Linked DNA regions of Homo sapiens. The protein of the gene in region 3 purifies or fractionates together with the protein of the main gene of each other region. This does not show direct contact. Each region holds a gene or a part of one and is shown on either strand. Other genes may lie near its edges.

Region 1 (3,500 bases), about 69 Mb from region 3:
ATGTCTCCAGACACTGCCAGATGTCTCCTAGGAAAAGATAATGCCAGTTGAGAATCACTGCTACAGGGTAACAATGAGAACTAACTGAGATAATAGGTCAAGTGCCCGATACAATGTAGATCTTCGACTCCCCTTTGGTTTCCAGGTCCCTTCAGTTCTCCTTCCTATCTCAAGCCTCCTTCTTTCTCCTTTCTGAAAGTTCTTCCTCTTTCACTCCCACAATGGCCACAGGATCTAAGATTCTATTCATAGCACTTCTTCATTACCTACATTATTTTTGAAATTATTTTTTATTGATTCATAATCATATTTTCATGGTATTGTGATAATTTGATATATTCATATAATCAAATCAGGGTAACCTATACTATTTCAAGTGGCATTCTTAGCTACTTCTATAGTTCCAGCAATTGCCTTTATTCTACTTGCCTGCAAAACCAGGCCTTTTCAGAAATTCTAGTCCCACATTTACAAGTTAGAGGAAGGAGCTTTTTTGTGCCTGACAGAAATGGCTTAACGTCAGACCATGACAAGTTACTTCTTTTCTGAATGTTTCTTCACCAATAAAATACAGATTAATACCTGTCTCACAGAATGCATAAGTATTAATTACTTCTTTTCTGATGTTTCTTCACCAATAAAATACAGATAATACCTGCCTCACAGAATGTTGTAAGGATTAAGTAATTACATCAAGAACTTAGGACAATATCTATCATATAACAAGTTTTCAATAAATAGTAGCTGCTATTATTACAGATCATCTCCACCTAAATGTCCCATGGATATCTTAAACTCATGTTGTTCAAAGCTGAAGTGATCTTATCTCTTCTATTTCTGCTACTGACATCACTCTAGGCCTCCTGGTAGGAAACCTTAGTTTCATCTTTTGTTTTGTTTTTAAAGATGGGGTCTCCCTATGCTGCTCAGACTGGTGAAAAGTGGTTATTCACAGGCACAATTATAGCACACTATAGCTTCAAACTCCCAGACTCAAGTGATCCTCCTGTCTCAGCTTCCTGAGTAGCTGGGACTACAGGCACTTGCCACCATACCCAGGTTCATCTTTGAACATACCATAATCCCATGAACTGCCAAATGTATTGCACTTAGTTTAGCAATTTCTCTTAGGCTCACTGACATAACCCTAGTTCAGATGTTCATTACATTCTTATCTGAATTACTGCAATAGTCTTCTAAATGATCCTATTTTTAGACTCCCCAAACCTACCCTACACACTGCTAATTTAATCTTCCTAACACTTAGATGACATAGAAAAATGTTCAACATATACTATTAGGCTTAAAAAACAGATTACAAACCAGTACATACTGTAGTATAATCCTAATTTTATAAAATATGTAAAAAAAAAAAAAAGCTCCCCCTTCCATCCACACATATATACACAAAAAGACAAAGGAGGGGGGAAAAAATCTCTCAAAGGATATACTCCTAAATGGCAAGAAAAGTTATCTCTGGATAGTTGGATTATGGGCAATTTATTTCCTGGTTTGAACTTTTTCCTTTGTTTTCTGCAGTTCCGACAATAAATGTATTATTTTATATAAGAGTTAAACAATTAATAATATAACATATATCCTTCTGTGACTTCCTCACTGCTTATGTTAAAAAGTCATAAATTCTTTGGCATGCACTCAAAGACCTCTATGGCCTTATTCAACTACTCTCCTCTTATCATATTCCCTACTTTCTATTCCCACTGCTACCTGTTCAAATCCATCCACTCCTTCAGGGTTCTGCTCAAATACCTCTAACATAATCATGGCATAAGTGAAAAAAATACCTGATTCTTAAGTCCCTCATTTAAAAATCCTGCTCTTCCAGTTACTGACCTTGGGCAAGTTAACTAAAGCCTCTGAAATTAAAATGTCCTCACCTATAAATGGAGGACAACACAACCTACTTCAAATGGCAGTAATTGAATAACAGAAGGTAGGCCTGAGCGGTGGCTCAGCTCATGCCTGTAATCCTAGCACTTTGGGAAGCCAAGGCAGGTGGACTGCTTGAGCCCAAGAGTTCAAGACCAGCCTGGGCAACATGGCAAAACTCCATCTCTACAAGAAATACAAAAATTAGCTGGGCAGGGTGGCACACGCATGTAGTCCCAGTAACTTGGGAGGCTGAGGTAGAAGGATCACCTGAGCCTTGGGAGGTTGAGGCTGCAGTGAGCCGTGATCGCACCACTGCACTCCAGCCTGGGCAACAGAATGAGACCCTGTCTCAGTCAGTAACAGAAGGTAAAACAAGTGTCTAACACAATGTGTTATTTGCTTCCATCTTGTTTGTAAGGGACATATGTGGCTCAAATTTGCAGCAGTGATAAATCTTGTAATGTTTTACCCAGTGTTCTCTCCAGAATAAACAAAGGCAAGAGAATGTTAATCAAGGAACAGCCTCAAAACTCACTTATCACACTTCCTCAGTTTCCTGAGGGAAGTTTGAGGGGTTCTCTTTAGCTCCCCTAAAACAGTGGTTCCACTCTTGTTCTACTTCTTTTTTCACTTTCTGTACAAACTATGGAAAGTGATCATTTTTATCCATAACCACGGCTTTATCATCCATAAACTCAATTCTCAAATCTGTATCTCCAACTCAGATTTCTTACTGTATCTCAAGATTTAAAAATCAAAGTGTCTACTGAATGTTTAACCTGGGTGTCCCACAAGAAACCTAAACTCAAAATCCTAAAATAAACTTACATTTCCCCCAAAATTGTCTGTCTTCCTACATTCCTTATGGCACCATTATCCACCAAAGACAGAAACCTGAGAGACATCTTATATTCCTCTTTTACCCCCTTTTCTCCATATTCAAGTTCTGTAATCCACCTCAAACATTAAGTCCCACCTGCATCCCAAACATGCCAGGCAGTTTCACGCCTTAGTGTTTTGGAACACATTTATTCCCTCTACCTAGAAAATCTTCCACTTCCTTCTTTGCTTGACTAACTTCTCTCATCCTTTAGAATTGAGCTGAAGGATTTTTCTCCTCTAGAAAACAAAAGCTAACTAGCATTTACTAAACACACACTATATTCTAATCACTGTGCAAAACACTTCGCATGCATTGTCTTGCCTAATACTCTAAATTCAGTGATGAGGTAGGTATTGTTATGTTTCTACAGATGGGGGAGGCCAAGATGTAACTCATGGGAGGTCATATATAAATAGTAAATAGTAGAAATGAAATTCAAACTTAGGTCTGACCCTAGTGCATAAGAATGCTCTTAGCCACCCTACTATACCACAGCTTCCCTTATCCAGCCCCTACCCCCACAATCCTACAACCTCGTGATTAGTTAGGGGTCTCTCCTCTGCTGCCATAATGAAGGGATTGTGCAGCACACTATAAATCTTTATTGTTTGGTTTGTCTTTTCTCAAATGAGTCTGAGTAAAGCAATTTGAAGACAAAGTCTGTTTCATGTACAATAGTCTCTCATTATCCAGAGTTATCCAATGTCTGAAAATAAATGGAAAA
Region 2 (3,500 bases), on a different chromosome or scaffold from region 3:
TTTCCACCTTGCTCGTACTCTCTATGGCTCTTTTTGCTTACTCTCTCTGAAGAAGCAAGCTGCTATGCTGCTGTCAGCTGCTATACGCAGAGGCCCACATGGCAAGGAACAAAGAAAGGCTTCCAGCCAACAGCGAGCAAAGACCTGGGACTCAGTCCAACAGCCAATGAAGAACTAAATCCTGCAGACAACCATGGGAATGACTCTTGAGATTACGGCAGCCCAGGGAAACATCTGATTGCAGCCTTGTGAGAGTTGCTTGGCCAAAAGACCCAGCTAAGCTACACCCAGATTCCTGACTCACAGAAGCCGTGAGATGATAAATGTTGCTAGAGGAGTAATTTGTTACACAGCGATAGGTAAACAATACGATATATAACAACAATATGCTCCAGAAAAGCTTCTATGGACAAAGAAGGCAGTCTAGTAAATTTTAAAACAAAGCACAAAGGAATAAACCCAAATAGCATCATATCCAGTCCATACCTGTCCTCCTCTTGCCAGCATGCTAACCCATATAGTACTGGTGGGTCGGGAAGAATTCTCAAGACATGATCTACACTCTCCTGTGTAGGCATATTTAGAATCCTTTTTGGCAAACACATAAACTGTGTTTGTTGCCATTTTCTCTTGGGCAATCAGAACCTATTTGGACAATAAGAAAGTTACAGCCATAAAATCCAAAACATCACTGAAGAGAAAAGAGAGTAAAATCTGCATCTTAATTTAATCTGACCATATAGGCTCACTGAAATATTTAATTCTTCAACTTTACAAACTCCATTTTGCATAAATGCTTCATAGAAATACATAAACTCCAAAACTGACCAAATTCCCAGTGCATGTTATATACAGCTAAATAAAGCTTTGGTTTATATAAGTTTAGCTGTCATACCCTAAACAAGTCAACTGTCAGTGCCAGGTTATCCTGCAGGAAAATCTTTCTTTCTTTTTTTTTTTTTTTTCATTTCAACTTTAAACTAAATTTTAACTACCATTTTGTAATTTTTTAAAATAATGTTACTATACCTTTTCTGATCCATTAATAATGAAATAGCCACCAGGATCCAAAGGGCATTCATTTAACTCACAAAGATCACGATCTGTCAAGCCATTCAAAAGGCAGTAAGTTGACCGCAACATAATTGGAATTTTTCCTATAAAAGTTTTCTGATGCTGAGTCTGAAGTTGTTCTTCACCTTCTTTAATGACTGTTTTTGTTATATCAACATAAAGCGGAGCAGAATACCTTTGAAAATAAAAGTAGATCACAGTTAAGCAATAGGGTATCTGTTAAAACAAATCCTCAAGTGGTTAAAATTACATTTTCAAAATTCTATTTCAGTATCTACTGCTGACAAGGAAAAATTCTTTCTTACGTGAGATTCCTTAATCTAGCTTCATTGGGCATCATTGGTGAAGGAGCACCATCTCTTTCCCAATGGGTAGGCTTGGAAAGATAAATTTGTTCAAACTTCAGCAAATATCGTGGCTGAAATTAAACAAAAAAACATGAAAAGGGTAAATAATTTTTTCCATAAAAGTTTTAGTGATTCCATTTTAATTGACATTAACATTTTAAGTACAAGCAACTCTACAAACTGGCAAAATTAATCCATTTTACTGAAATGGGGACTTCCCAAAGTCAATATCCATATTGCATAGACGTTAAGTTTTAAACCAAATCACTTTCTTTTTTCCTCTTTTCTTAAAAATTTTTTTTCACATTAGACAGGTAATGTGCTAACAAGGTTTGTAACAAGGTTTAAGGAAGGCACATCTCACACCCAATCATCACACACTTATCAACTACAGAAGGATCTGCTAATTGCTTTCTTAAGGCAGAAGACAAAAAGAGACTTAATATACTAAAAGTAAAGACTGTACACATCATGTGCTCTGAGTTTATATGAAACAGTTAAAATGGATTTACATTAATGATCTACATAGTTTCTTGTGCCCTCTCCTTGGTAAGCATCATCAAAAATACAAAGTGACCAGAGAACAAAGATAACAAATCCAGACAACTAGAACTATGCTCTAATCTAATCAATAGAACATTTTAAAAAATAAACCTCTCTTCAGTTAAATATACAAATTAATCTGTCAAAGGAGTAGAGTTAACAAAAGAAAAAGATTTTTTTATTTTAAAAAACACACAAAATATCCTAATCATTCTATATAAAGGGCTGAGAATTTCCAACTCTGGCTGGAATATAGCTTAGTTCATAGAAAAAAAAAGAAATTTTTCAATTAAACATTCACTTGCTGCCTAATAAAACAAGATCCATGAGGACAACTTTCTAGAGATAAATGGATAGTGTACTTTTCTCTAAATCAAGTCTCAGAGAAGAAAACAGGAGTAAGCAGACGTTTTACTAATGATTAATTATTGACACTCAAGTCTCCCAAGCTGGGCTGGATAAAGGGCAAAGAGAACGGTGGTGATAACGAACCAAAGGGAAGCCAATCCTCTACTCCTTATCTGTGCCATCATCTAGTCTAGGTCATTATTATCTTAATCATAGGCTATTCTAAGATTTTTATCTCCTCCAGTCTCTTTTGTTTTGTTTCATTTTGTTTTGTTTTGTTTGAGACAGGGTCTCACTCTGTCACCCAGGATGGAGTGCAGTGGCGTGATCTCGGCTCACTGCAGCCTCCACCTCCTGGGTTCAAGTGATTCTCCTGCCTCAGCCTCCCAAGTAGCTGGGACTACAGGCGCACCACCAGGCCCGGCTAATTTTTGTATTTTTTGGTAGAGATGGGGCTTCACCAAGCTGGCCAGGATGGTCTCAAACTCCTGGCCTCAAGAGATCTGCCTGCCTAGGCCTCCCAAAGTGCTGGGATTACAGGCATGAGCCACCACATCTGGCCTCCTCTAGCCTCTTTCTATTCCAAGCAAGCATCACTTTCCAAAGTAACTTTTCTAAAATAATGCTTTATGTATATTCTTTGACAGTCTCTCAGTAATTCCTCATAACATCCAATGACATTCAAAGCTTTCAACAATCGGGTTCCATCTTATCTTCCTAATGCCTATTAAAAATAGAGAAGCCCTGTAATCCCAGCACTTTGGGAGGCCAAGGAGGGCAGATCATGAGGTCAGGAGATCGAGACCATCCTGGCTAATACGGCAAAACCCTGTCTCTACTAAAAATACAAAAAAATAATAGCCGGGCGTGGTGGCAGGCGCCTGTAGTCCCAGCAACTCAAAAAGCTGAGGCAGGAGAATGGCGTGAACCCGGAAGGCGGAGCCTGCAGTGAGCCGAGATCGCGCCACTGCATTCCAGCCTGGCCAACAGGGCGAGACTCTGTCTCAAAAAAAAAAAAAAAAATAGATAAGCCAAAATCACATACTGATCATTGTGGTCCCCAGCCTAAATACACCAAGTATTTTCTTTTCTTTTTTTTTTTTTTTTTTTTTTTTTTTTGAGACAGAGTCTCGACCTCTCGCCCAGGCTGGAGTGCAGTGGCGTGATCTCAGCTCGCTGCAACCTCCG
Region 3 (3,990 bases):
CGTCCAGCTAATTTTTGTATTTTTAGTAGAGACAGGGTTTCACCATGTTGGCCAGGATGGTCTCGATCTCTTGACCTTGTGATCTGCCCCCCTCGGCCTCCCAAAGTGCTGGGATTACAGGTGTAAGCCACCACGCCCGGCACAAAGGACATTTTCATCTTTCTTTTTTAGTGAGGTAGTGAAGGGTATATAGCTAAGGTAGAATTTCAAGAACTGCAAATATAAAGTAAAAGGGCTTCAAGTTTTGGGAAACAGTGAGCATTCTGAATAGAGGATGGTGAGATTTTAGGAAAAGGTTACAGGAAGACCTGTTTTACTTCATTTTATTTATTTATTTAATTTTTGAGACAGAATCTCACTCTGTGGCCCAGGCTAGAGTTCAGCAGCACGATCTTGGCTCACTGCAACCTCCGCCTCCCAGGTTCAAGTGATTCTCCTGCCTCAGCCTCCTGAGTAGCTGGGATTACAGGTGCCCGCCACCATACCCAATTAATTTTTGTATTTTTAGTAGAGACAGGGTATCACCATATTGGCTAAGCTGGTCTCAAATTCCTAAACTCAAGTGATCCACCCACCTTGGCTTCTCAAAGTGTTGGGATTATAGGCATGAGCCACTACACCAGGCTGGAAGATTTGTTTTAAATTAGCTAAAGGAAGGACCAATACCTATGCTTGAAGAAAACAGAGATGGCAGGAAAGGTAATTTGGTAAATGGTTTTGAAGCAGTTGAGGTAGATATGAGGGTGGCACAAAGGGTTAAATTTAAGATGTAGAGAAAATATCTTTGGAAGCAAAGTTAAGGATAACTTGAGGAAACACTGGTTTCAGTGGGGAATAAAACATGTTGCTCTCAGAGGACTGGGGAAGTACTGGGCAGCTCTAGTGACAGAAATATTAAGAAAGGAGAAAAAGGATAAGTAAAAAAGTACTCTTAGCTTCCCAGTCATGTCGAACAATGCCAGAGTCTTTTATTTTCCCAACAAGGAAGCTGGCAGACTGGTGGTGAAATGATGAACAATTTAGTCTTAATTATGTTTAACTCAATTATCAAGGGCCACACAGTGTTAAGTTTTCCATATCCTAAACCACACAGGATTGGATCGGCAGGCAGAGGTGTCTGCCATCACAGGTGCTGTTGTCAGCATAATTGATGTTATTTGAATTGAGAGTGGTGTTACATCGCCTTACGCATCAGAAAAGACTTCAAGGTTTGCTTTTTTTTTTTTGAGCCAGAGCTTTTTAGCTAACCTGCATCTCATTATGTTTAGGTCATTAGTTTATTTAGCATAGGTCCTACCTTACCACAAGTAACACTGCCTTGTGTTGCTATAATACACTCTTTCAAACATGAATTTATTTTGGGCATTATCTCATTAAGCATTTCATTGGAATTTCTAGGCAATACAGTTTAATTACCATAAGGATAACTTGTTACCTTTATATTATCATGCCATTTCACCCTCAATAATAAAATTTTCTTGACTTTAGCATCTAGTAAAACATTGCCAGTATTTAAATCATTTCCCAAGAGGCTAAACTCCAGCATTGCCCATAAACTCTTTTTACAAAAAAAAAAATTACTTTTTAATTGTGTCTTTAAATTGATAAAATAGTGTACTGATTTTTATAAAGATTAAATGAACCTGAACTTTCTAACCTTTCTCATAGCAGAGTTCACCTGGATCCTAAGACCCAGTAACTTCTGAAAAAATTTAACATTCTTCCTCCAGGATTATTATATTAACAGGATTCACAGACATAACTAGCATCACAGGACACTGGAGTTAAAGTTCTGATTTTGCAATTAAAGCTAAAACAACAAACAAATAACATTTGTATGTATGCATTTTCTGATTTTAAGTGTAAAATCCTTAATAGCTATGCTTAAAATATAACCATTTCCCCATAAAGTATATAAAATGGTAACTTTTTACAGAAAACTAGACTTACTCTCAGCTAATCTCAAAAAGCAGAAACAAATTATTAGAATATATGAACAAATGTATATACACAATGACTTAAATTACCTCTCTTCTTCTCGAACCCATACTGGAGTTTTGGGAATTTGTGCTTCAAAAAACTTAGATGCTTGATAACAAAAATTGCTGCAAAAAGACTGAAAAGAACATTATAAATCTAGTTTTTTTCTTATCATGAAACATTACCTACATACAGTTGAGAGTATAAAACATAAATGTATCGTTCAAAGAATAAAATGGAAACCTACAGATCTACCACCCAAGGTAAGAAATAAGATACTGAACCTTTGAAGGCCTCTATGTGCCCCTTCCCAACTGCATCACCCTCCGCATTCCCCAGAAGTAACCACTACCATAAATTTGGTGTTAATCATTCCCTCATTTCCTTTCAGTTTTAGCACCTGTGTACATATCCCTATTAAAAAATATTCAGTTTTGCCTATTTTTAAACATTTTTTTGAATGGAATAATATTGTTATACATTCTTATCTTACTTCATTCACTTATTAAATTTTATTTTTTTTAGGGACAGGGTCTCACTCACTGTAGCCTCAAACTCCTGGGCTCAAGTAATCCTCTGGTTTCAGCCTCCTGAGTAGCTTGGACTACAGGCGTGCCACCACACCTGGCTATTTTATTTTTTTGTAGAGATGGGGTCTCTATTTGTTGCCCAGGCTGGTCTCTATCTTCTCTCCCTGGCCTCCCAAAGTGCTGGAATTATAGGTGTGAGCCACCGTACCTAGCCACTTCTTTTGTTTAAAATTATGTTTTTAAGATTCATTCAAGTAGTTGTAGCTTATTAATTTTCACTGTGTACTACATTCCATTGTTAGAGTATTACACTTTACCATTTATAGACAATTGAGTTGTTTCTAATTTTTTTGCTATCACTACAATGTTACTATAAACTTTTTTTTACAATTAAAAAATGTTCACAATTGTGGTAAAATATACATAATCTAAAATTTATCATCATAAGCATTTTTAAGTATATAGCACAGTGGTATTAAGTACCTTCACACTGTTGTGCAACTATTACCACCATTCATCTTTAGAACTCTTTTTATCTTACAGAACTGAAACCCTATACACTAACTTCCCATTCCCACCTCTCTTGATGATCATTCTACTTTCTGTCTCTGTTAATCTGACTTCTCTAGGTACCTCATATAAGTGAAAGCATACAGTATTTGTCCTTTTGTGCTGGCTTATTTCACTTAGCATATTATCTTCAAGGTTCATCCACCTTGTAGCATGTGTCAGAATTTCCTTCCTTTTTTTAAAGGCTAATATTCCATTGTGTGTATATACGACATTGTTTATCCAGCTATAAACATTTTTATACATACATGCTGGTGTACATGTGTAAGAATTTTTTTAGGGTTTATACCAAGGAATAGAAAGGCTTAATTATAGAGAATGTGCAAAGACTTCACCAGACAAATGCCAAGCCATTTCTCAAAAAGGCTGTACCAATTTTCATTCCCACTAGTTGCAAAAAGATTTCCTAACATTCGCAATTTTGTGGGCTGTGAAAACAAAACTCAGTGTGTTTTTATTTGCTATTTCTCTGATTACTGATAATATTTAGCATCTTTTCATATGTTTATTAGCCATTCAAGTTCCTTGTGTAAATTTTTCTATTAGTTTGTCTGTCTTTTTCTTATAGATCATATATTCTAGATATGATTCTATGGTCAGTTAACATTCTGCTTTGTGGCTTCTCTTTTCATTTTTTTTTTGAAACTTCTGATGAACAAAAGTTTTACATTTTAATATAGAAATGTTTATCAGTTTCTCCTCTTTGGCCTATAATTTTCCATCTTATTTTATGAAGTCTCTCTACCCCAAGTTTATATCTTCCCATATTGTCTTTTTTTTTTTTTTTTTTTGAGACGGAGCCTCACTCTGTTGCCCCGGCTGGAATGCAGTGGTGCGATCTCGGCTCACTGCAAGCTCCGCCTCCCGGGTTCACGCCATTCTCCTGCCTCAGCCTCCCGAGTAGCTGGGA
Region 4 (3,500 bases), on a different chromosome or scaffold from region 3:
TGTTACTGAGTACTTACCTGGTGGTGTATTATTCACAGGGTTTATACAAGTTCAAAAAATGTGTTTTCTGCCTCCCAGTGTGTTATAGGCTTATAGAGAGAGACGTGTAAGCAAGTGGAATAACATGCAATAGGTACTGTGATACAAGTAGGCGAGGGGTATTTTGGTATTACAAATGGTAGCTAGGATGTGATGCCTGAACTGAGTTTGCCAGATGTGGATGAAGTGTGGTGGTGCGGAAGCATTCCAGATAGAAGGAGGAGGCGTAGGCACAAGTACAGCTGCAAGCACAGCATATGATGTATGCCTCGCTGTGGAGTTAAGACATGGTGAAGAGGGTGGGGAGGCACTGAAGAGTTGTAGAGAATGAGGTGCTCAGCTGTGCACATGAGGACATGTACACTGGCTTTAGTGCTGAGCATTGAAAGGGACGAGCAGGAAGAGTAGTAAGGAAGTATTGCCGCAGACCAGCTGAAAGATTATGAGGGCCTCAACTGGCACAGGAGCAGAGGATAAATGCGAGGAAGGTTAAAAGGAGGTCGACTCAGTAGAATTTTTGTTTTCCTGTTGATTAAGAAGAGTCAGAAAGTTAGGACTCCCGGGTATCTAATTTGGGATTGACTGGGATAAATGGTGATATTCATTGAGATTGAGAATGGAGCTGGGGGAAGATTTAATTTTGGACATACTGATCTTAAGTAGCCTCTGAGGCTGTAAGGTATCACTGCCCAGTCAATAGTTGGAGGGGACAGGCCCATACCCAGTAGCTTACTGCAACAGTGATATTCACTCACTCATTTATTTATTCAGTATTTATTGGAGTCTTTTATGTGCCAGGCACTGTGGTAACAGGATAGACAGGGTCACTGCCCTTGAAAGAGCCCACATTTGGAACTGGGGGGCTGTGGGATGAGATGGGGGAAGCTAAACAACACTTTCAAACAGTGTTGTTTGAAATCCTCCATTCCCAGCCCTACTTGAGAAAAGACATCGCCAGGGATAGAACTTTGAAGAACACCAAAATTTGCAGGGTGGCAGAGAAAAAGAGGTGTGACAAGGCCCGGCCGGAGGAAGGAAAGACATAAGAGAATGATACCACAGAGTGTTATAAGACAGTGATCGGCATGGCCAAATACTGTGGAAAGGGAATGTGAGGGGGCATCAAGGGAGGTCTTTTGAAGTAGCAGCCTTGGTGACCTCTGTCGAGCTCTTTCACTGGCAGGTAGGTCAGAGTCCTGACTATAACGGAATGAAGGAGTGGGAAGTGAGGAACAGAGAAGCTAAATATGGAGTAATTTGGGAGAGATCGTAAGCTGAAGGGCAGGGAAGAAAGTAGTCAGAGGAGCTGCTGAGTCAAGAAAGTTTTAAATTTTTTTTTTAATGGGAGGATTTGAATACTCGTTTTAAATAGAACAGGTTGAATATCAAGGACTGAACTGGGGCAAGGTTTCCAGTCTTCAGGAGAAGGTTGGCAGGATTGTGTCTGTGGCGGAAGGGTTAGCCTTAGACCAAGGAATGGATGGTCCTTCCTTTGAAGTGGGAGGAAACGAGTATAAGAAGGGGTGTAGAGAGAGGAATTTGAAGATGTGGGAGTATTAGCTCATAGGGCTGCCGTAACAAAGTAACCACAAACTAGGTGGCTTAAACAACAGAAATTTGTTTTCTCATAGTTCTGGAAGTTAGAAGTCTGAGATCAGGGTGACAACAGAGCTGGCTCCTTCTGAGGGCTATGAGAGAGGATCTGCTCTGGGCCGTCCCCTACTACAGGTGTTTGCTGGCAATCTTTGGCATCCCTTGGCTTGCAGAAGCTTCACTGAGACCTCTACCTTCATCTTCACATGGCATTGTCCCTGTGTGCATCTCTATGTCCAATTTCTCCTTTTTTATAAGGACACCAGTTGTATTGGATTAGGGCTCACCTTAATGACTCATTTTACTTAATCACCTTTGTCAAGACCCCATCTTCAAAAACAGTCACATTCTGAGATACTGGGGATTAGGACTTTAGCATATGAATTTTGAGAGGGACACAATTCAACCTATATCATTGTCATTCTTCTATTTTTAAATTTAGGTGTAATTTATATAATAAAATGTATGGATACTAGATATTCAGTTACATTGGTTTTATAGTTATGTGCTCTATGTGGACATTGCATCACCCCAGAAAGTTCCCTTATGACCCTTTTCAGTCTATCCCCCCAAGCACCTTTTGATTTCCGTCATCATAGATTAGCTTTGCCTGCCTCTCTTGTTTTTGACTATACCCAGGGGTCTGCCACCTTCCCTGGCCACTCCTCGGTCTCCTTTGCTGGAGCTGCCTCCTGCTCCTCCTCTCTGATTGTTGGATTATTCTTGGTTGGTCTCACTTTGTGGAACTCTTCTCCATCTACATTCCATAGGTGATCTCATCCATCACGTGCCTTTAATTGCCATCCACTTGTTAATCTCTTCCTAGTTTATATCTCCAGGCCACTCCATTCCCGAATTCAAGACTCATTTGTTGCCTCCTTGACATTTCCACCTGAATGTCTAATGGAGATCTCAAGCTTAACACACCCAAACCAAATTTCTAGTAGCCCCTCCACACCTAAACCTGCTATTCCTACAATGTTCCTCGCCTCCATCAATTTTAACTCTATCCCTCTAGTTGCTCAGGCAATGTAGGAAGCAATCACCATATGTGTCATCCTTCTGTAGCCCTGAGATGAGCTCTGACCAGACAGTAGTTGAGAGAGAATGGGAGGGAGAAAGAACTCCCTTTGGGTCTTGAGACCCAGCTCTCCCACCAGACTCTCTGAGCCTTATTTTCCTTTTCTCAAACTGGCAAACTTCACTTAGGAAGTGTCATGAGAATAAAATAAAGGATTGAAAAGTGCTTAAAATCTTGAGTCATCAGGAAGAGATTAAGTTATATTCTGTTTAGGAAACCTGTAGTGTATGTATGTATGTGTATACATATTTATATGCATATGCACACATGTGATTTCCATAAAAATGTTTAAAAATTATTCTTTTTGTTTTGATTTACTTTCCTTTGCTTATTTTGGAACATTAAAATAACTTATGAAAGTACTGTTGCTGGTACAGAGTTCTGATATTCTTCTTGTTTTGGCTCACAGGAAAAATGGAGGCTGCTTCCAGCATTTTTAAAGGTAATTGTTTCACATTTAATAATAATTGGTTATTTTTCAGATGAAAAAGTCAAGAAATAAGCCATTTTTTAAAGATTAAATTTTTGTCATCAACATTTTTTGATTTTGTATAGCTGTGTTTGGAAATACAAGGAATTATAAGGTAAAATCCCTGCCTGAAAGGTGCTGGTTTGGAGAGTGGTAGTCTAATTTTAGAGAGAAGTAGTAGTACATGCACAGTAGCATGGCACATGATTAAAAACCAAAGTGCTATCAGCAAAAGAGCAATGGTCAGAGAGGGCCACCCAAATGAAGTGAGACATAAACCACATCTTAAGAGAAGAAGGTTTAAGCCTGAAAGCTGGG

Evidence for each region. The genes of interacting proteins can lie anywhere in the genome.
Region 1: the proteins of RPAP2 (region 3) and PFDN2 purify together in Homo sapiens (co-immunoprecipitation; 3 studies listed by BioGRID and IntAct, with this or other methods). This does not show direct contact.
Region 2: the proteins of RPAP2 (region 3) and POLR2B purify together in Homo sapiens (affinity purification with mass spectrometry; 3 studies listed by BioGRID and IntAct, with this or other methods). This does not show direct contact.
Region 4: the proteins of RPAP2 (region 3) and POLR3B purify together in Homo sapiens (affinity purification with mass spectrometry; 2 studies listed by BioGRID). This does not show direct contact.

What each region holds. Positions count from the first base shown.
Region 1 is NC_000001.11:161,111,538-161,115,037, forward strand, and holds part of PFDN2 (prefoldin subunit 2), read right to left. Parts: intron 1-3,500. UniProt on the Homo sapiens protein: Binds specifically to cytosolic chaperonin (c-CPN) and transfers target proteins to it. Binds to nascent polypeptide chain and promotes folding in an environment in which there are many competing pathways for nonnative proteins.
Region 2 is NC_000004.12:56,992,396-56,995,895, reverse strand, and holds part of POLR2B (DNA-directed RNA polymerase II subunit RPB2), read right to left. Parts: intron 1,822-3,500; exon of another isoform or gene 1,726-1,821; intron 1,493-1,725; coding exon 1,380-1,492; intron 1,250-1,379; coding exon 1,030-1,249; intron 646-1,029; coding exon 487-645; intron 1-486. UniProt on the Homo sapiens protein: Catalytic core component of RNA polymerase II (Pol II), a DNA-dependent RNA polymerase which synthesizes mRNA precursors and many functional non-coding RNAs using the four ribonucleoside triphosphates as substrates.
Region 3 is NC_000001.11:92,305,314-92,309,303, reverse strand, and holds part of RPAP2 (putative RNA polymerase II subunit B1 CTD phosphatase RPAP2), read right to left. Parts: intron 2,117-3,990; coding exon 2,028-2,116; intron 1-2,027.
Region 4 is NC_000012.12:106,360,748-106,364,247, forward strand, and holds part of POLR3B (DNA-directed RNA polymerase III subunit RPC2), read left to right. Parts: intron 1-3,122; coding exon 3,123-3,155; intron 3,156-3,500. UniProt on the Homo sapiens protein: Catalytic core component of RNA polymerase III (Pol III), a DNA-dependent RNA polymerase which synthesizes small non-coding RNAs using the four ribonucleoside triphosphates as substrates.